Regions from separate parts of the Homo sapiens genome. Here region 1 is linked to region 2. The links come from fine-mapping of genetic effects on gene expression. A gene starts in region 2. The other region holds a variant in brackets. All regions are shown on one strand. Distances are between the middles of the regions.

Region 1 (2,906 bases), 28 kb after region 2:
CAAGAAAAGGATGAGTATGTGAGGTGATGGATGTGTTTAATTGGCCTGATTTAATCATTCCACGTTGTAAACATGGATCAAAACATCATATTGTATCCCATACATAGATACAATTATTATTTGTCAATTAAAATGGAACTGTGCTGAGCCCACAGTAAGTACTCCACAGTGTTTCCTGCTCCCCTAGGACCCAGGCAGAAGCACCAGCAGCTTCAATTTCCCTCCAGGATCCCGGCATTCAATCCTTTAGTGTTCCTGTCACCACATCCCACTGCTGTAGTGCAGAAAGTGCACAGGGGAGTGGAGACTGGCAGATTCAGTCGTCGTGGGGCCAGGACCATGGTGCGAGGTGCAGGCGAGCACAGGGAAAGCCCTGTTCCTGGGCCAGAGTCCAGCCGGTAGCCGCTGCCCCAGGAGAAGCCAGACTGACGGAGGCACAGACCACGAGCCACTGTGGGAGCTGGAGCAGCCTGGCCATCTCGCATAGTGGCAGTTGCCACAGCAGGTGGAGCAGGGCAGCATTCTTCCCAGGCTACACACATGGCCAAGAGGCTGGCAGAGGGACCAATGGCACAGACAGGATGCAGCTGCAGAGGACTGTCCGCCTGGAGACCTTGGATGCTCTCCTGATTGTATCTGTCAGGTTTCCCACTACAGACAGCAGACTCTCCTCTTGTCAGGTTAAGCGGAAAAGGAATTTTGTTCTTATTTATTTTATTTATTTTTTACTTTTTTTGAGATGGAGTCTTGCTCTATCGCCCAGGCTGGAGAGCAGTGGTGCGAACTTGGCTCACTGCAATCTCTGCCTTCCAGGTTCAAGCATTCTCCCACCTCAGCCTCTCAAGTAGCTGGGATTATAGGCGCCCACCATCACACCCGGCTAATTTTTGTATTTTTAGTAGAGACAGGGTTTCATCATGTTGGCCAGGCTGGTCTCGAACTCCTGACCTCAGGTGATCTGCCTGCCTTGGCCTCCCAAAGTGCTGGGATCACAGGTGTGAGCTTACCATGCCCGGCCTATTTATTTTATTTTAAAATTATTTTTATAGAGATGGGATCTCACTATGTTGCCCAGGCTGATCTCAAACTCCTGGCCTCCAGAGATCCTCTCACTTGGAGCCATCCTCCCATCTCGGCCTCCCCAGACACTGTGATTACAGGCGTGAGCCATCCCACCCAGCCTAGGAATTTTGTTTTTAAAGGGTATTAGGTAGCTTGTGGAATCTCCAGGCCAGCCAGAACACCAGGCTTGGAGGGTATGCCTGGATGATACCCTTGCAGACACCACCACCTCCACCACTGGCGCACACTCTGCGGTTCACACGCTGGGCACTGCTGCCACACCCTCGGCACCTCTCTCTGCCGCCCTGGCAGCTGGCTGTGTGCTGCCAGCTCCCTAGAGTGGCCTCCGGGCCTAACGTCACAGCTATGCTGCACTGCCCCCACCTGGGCTTGGTAACTGGCTGGACTTTGGTCACATGCCTGTGCCCTACATGGGAGCCGACTCTGAGAAAGCAAGTTTCTGCTTCTCCCTTGGGCAGGCGTAGATTCACAGGCAGGGAGTTCAGAGGTTCTGGGTGGCCAAAAAGAATGATGTAAGTCCTTGATGGAAGACGTGTGGTCAGAGCCAGGTGCAGTGGCTCAGGCCTGTCATACCAGCACTTTGGGAGGCCGAGGTTGGCAGATCATTTGAGGTCAGGAATTCGAGACCAGCCTGGCCAACATGGTGAAACCCCGTCTCTACTAAAAATA[C/G]AAATATTAGCTGGGCATGGTGGTGCACACCTGTAATCCCAGCTACTCAGGAGGCTCAGGCAGGAGAATTGTTTGAACTGCGGAGGCTGCAGTGAGCCAAGATCATGCCATTGCACTCTGGCCTGGGTGACAGACCGAGACTTTGTCTCAAAAAAAAAAAAAAAAAAGGCATTAGAAACTAACTTCATCAGATTGTTTTATGACTGAGGAGTGATAATACGTGTGGAAACTTTCAAAACTGCAGAATGCACTTCTGATTGAAATAGTTGTTAAGCAGGCATCTGATTTATTGGTGCAGAGAGGGCCGTCGCCAGCATACTGGGGTGAAGTGCCATGCCTGGCCCATGGGCTGTGACTGTAACCCTTGCATGTCAGAATGTGCCTTGAATCTTCTCTGATTCATTTTTTAAAATCATAAAAGATACAATTCAGAAATGACTTTATTCTTTTTCTTTTTTGAGATGTAGTCTTGCTCCATCTCCCAGGCTAGAGTGCAGTGGTGTGATCTTGACTCACTGCAACCTCTGCCTCCCGGGTTCAAGCGATTCTCCTGCCTCAGCCTCCCAAGTAGCTGGGATTACAGGTGTGTGCCACTGCGCCTGGCTAATTCTTGTATTTTTAGGAGAGACGGGGTTTTGCCAGGCTGTTCTCCAACTCCTGACCTCAAGTGATCTGCCCGCCTCGGCCTCCCAAAGTACTGGGATTACAGGTGTGAGCCACTGTGCCCGGCCCTGGAAATGCCCCTATTCTTTATTATTATATTCTTTATCTTTTATTACTATTAACAAATTACCTAAAAAACATTTGCATTCATTGCTTCCAGGTAACAAAAAACCTTGCTTCAGCTAATTGTGCAAAAATGAGAATTTATTAGCTATGAAATTGAAGAGTTGAAAGTGGCTTCAGGAATGGTGAGATCCATATGCCGAAATGAAACTTTCAGCCACCTGTCTCCATGACTCAGCTCTGCTTCTCTATGCTGGCTTTGCTCTCAGGCAAATTCCTCCTGCGTGGTGGCGGGAAGCTCCAGGATTACCTTCTACCTTCCTAACCACCCTGTGGAAAGAGAAAGCTGCTTTCTGAATTAGTCTAGAAGAGTCTAGAAAAGATTGACTCTAGATGGACTGAGATTGCCAAGTCTGGGTTGCATGCCC
Region 2 (2,906 bases):
GGCTCAGCAGGAGGATGTGCACAGGTGCAGGCTGGGGCTGGCGGATCCGCCCCACAAAGGCCCGCAGGGCCAGGAGGTTGGCAGGGAGGCCAGTGAGGAAGATGATGATGTAAGCCATGAGGATCAAGGAGCTCTTCCAGTCCGGCAGCATCCTGGAGGGGAACAAAAAAGGGCGGGGTCAGGGAGGTCTCACTCACAGCCCGCGCAGCCAGCTCTCCTTCAGGATGCGGACATCCTCCCCGGCACCGTCCCCTTCCCAGGACTGTGCTTTCTGATGCCACCACGGCTTGCTCACACCACCTGCTCGAACTACCCAGAGCAATTATTGACTTTGCCTGGGGCGGGATATTAAGCAGTAGTGATTATGTTTGCCATCATGTGTCTCTGGAGGAGACCAACTCGTGGCTTCCCAAGGGAATTCCCCCTCCAGTTTCCCTAGCCTTTCTCCTCCTGTCCTCACAGATACAGGAAGTTACTGTTGCCAGTTTCTAACTTTACTCAAGTCCCTTTCTCAGACAGAGACCTGCAGGAGAGAAAGGCATCAGTGCCGGGAGAGAGCTGTAAGATGCTTATCAGTATAAAGAGGCTGTGGCGCCCCAGGCGCGGATACCCAGTGCCAGCTCTCCAAAGGACCCAAGTGCCCAGCCACCAGCCCAGCTTCCTACTTCCGTTCGTCTGTTTTGCAGAGCACAGATTCTCCCCCACCTTGTCCTCTCCTGTCCAACACCAAACTCTGGGACTCTCTAGAAAAGGGGAAGCTGGGGCTGGGCGCAGTGGCTCACTTCTGTAATCCCAGCACTTTGGGAGGCCGAGGCGGGCAGATCACCTGAAGTCAGGAGTTCGAAACAAGCCTGGCCAACGTGGTGAAACCCCATCTCCACTAAAAAAAAAAAAAATTAGCCGGGTGATATGGCGGGCACCTGTAATCCCAGCTACTTGGTAGGCTGAGGCAGGAGAATCGCTTGAACCGGGAAGCAGAGGTTGCAGTGAGTCAAGATTGCGCCATTGCACTCCACCCTGGGCGGTAAGAGCAAAAACTCCGTCTAAAAAAAAAAAAAAAGAAAAGAAAAGGGGAAGCTGGGAGGCTTAGAGGAGGGTGGAGGGGAAGAAGGATGAACCAGCACTAGCCTTAGGAGGAAGGCTTGTCCCTAGAAGACCTTAGAGAAATATTCAGAAAAGCCCACAGGCCTTCACTGGCCCTTGAGCGTGGCATTCTGACCATAAATAGAACTCGTCTTCTTCACGGGGTAACTCAGTTTCCACTTGGGGTGTCACCCTTGCTGGCCCCAACCCAGGTCCTGTCCCTCTGTCCACTCTCCAGCCTTGATTTCCTGGCTGTTTCCTTGCTCCTCACACTAGCTCCTGTCTCTGGGTATGAGTCTTCCATTTGGTTCTGACATCCTTCCTCCAGTCTCCCAGAACCTTCCCCTCAAACCTGATCCTGGCCTCTCTTCCCAGAGCACAAGCACTACACTAGCTGCCTTGCCTTGTGTTGTTCCGGATAGGTGGCTTCTTGGGATTGGTTCTGAAGGGAGGTCTGCAAGCTTCCAGGAGAGAGGAACAGAGCTTTAGCCCCTGCTTCTGTCCATGCCATGCAGGAAAAAATGGTGAGGAACCTGGCTGGTAGTAAGCATTTATACTAGCACCAGCCACGTGACCAGAGAAAGGAAGGTCAGTCTTTAAGCACTATTTCCTCTCAAACCCAAAGGAAAGGCCCAGCATCTTTATTCTCTCCCTAGAGAATCCTCACTCTTGACTTCCAAATTCAGATTTTTCTGTCCTTAATTCCTGATTTAAAAAAAAAATTCCCAGGCATTTTTCTTTTTTTACTTCCCAAGTCAGATTATTTTCTTTTCTCTTTCTTAGGCAGTTTCTTCTGTCATTCTGCTCATTCTCAGAAATGAGCTTTCCTCCTTCCTTTTTATTTTTCCTCTTTTTTTTTGGTTTTTTTTTTCGAGGCTGAATCTTGCTCTGTTGTCTAGGCTGGAGTGCAGTGGCGCCATCTCAGCTCACTGCAACCTCTGCCTCCCGAGTCCAAGCGATTCTCCTGCGTCAGCCTCCCTGGGATGACAGGCACCTGCCACCACGCCCAGCTAATTTCTGTATTTTTAGTAGAGACAGGGTTTCACCATGTTGGCTGGTCTTGCACTCCTGACCTCAAGTGATCCGCCTGCCTTGGCCTCCCAAAGTGCTGCGATTACAGGCGTGAGCCACTGCACCCGGCACTCCTTCCTTTTCTTCTTCAATTTTTTTACTTTCTCTATGGTCTCCTGCCCTCTGCCCCCAACACATTTCTTTTGCCCGTCTCAGCTGAAACAGGCTGGTCCTGGCCTGCATCTTGTTGTGATGGAAATGGTGTGGGAGTTATAGTCATGCAGATATGGGCTCAAATCCAGGTCCCTTCATTACAACCTTGGGGGCAGATCCGTTTTCTGAAGTCTAGTTTGCTGTAGTCAAGTGAGCATGCGAATTCTGACATCCTAGGACTTCTGCGAGGATTCAGTGAGGTTGTGTATATAAAGCACTTAGCAGATGCCCGTAAGTGCTGCCTCGTCTCAAGCCTGTAACGCAGCTTCACAGAGAGTGAGCCACTTGGTGCAGCCTCCAGAGGCTCAGGGCATGGATGTGCTGTCCCTCTTGGGAAAGTGTCAGGAATTCAGGAGGCCCGAGTTCACGTGCCCATGTGGCTTTTCGTCAGGGAGTGGCACTCAGGCTCCATTCCTTTCCCTGATAAAGTCTCACTGTTTCCCCCTCTCTGACCTTGGTAGCCCCAGGTTAGGAGCTCCTGAAGGTCCCTTTGAAATACACACCTAATGCAGCAAGGATCGTTGGAACGTGTTTTCCTCTTGAACTAGGGAGGAAGTCTCAGAAAGAAGTCTCTGTTCTGCCATCTGTGGCCTGATTCC

Evidence for each region. PIP is the estimated chance that this variant, and not a neighbour inherited with it, causes the effect. A credible set is the group of variants that fine-mapping cannot tell apart.
Region 1: its variant is the best candidate, but not a certain one, in a credible set for the expression of FFAR2 in whole blood (TOPMed, PIP 0.68).

Annotation. Positions count from the first base shown.
Region 1 is chr19:35,419,078-35,421,983 of GRCh38, reverse strand. No RefSeq gene overlaps it. Among named protein-coding and RNA genes, the nearest start is that of LINC01531, 15 kb to the right of the region's middle. The variant C/G (reference allele first, on the strand shown) is at 1,753.
Region 2 is chr19:35,446,960-35,449,865 of GRCh38, reverse strand. FFAR2 (free fatty acid receptor 2) reads right to left here and starts at 1,609. Exons shown (of 2, transcript NM_001370087.1): 1 at 1,487-1,609; 2 at 1-152. The coding sequence starts at 151.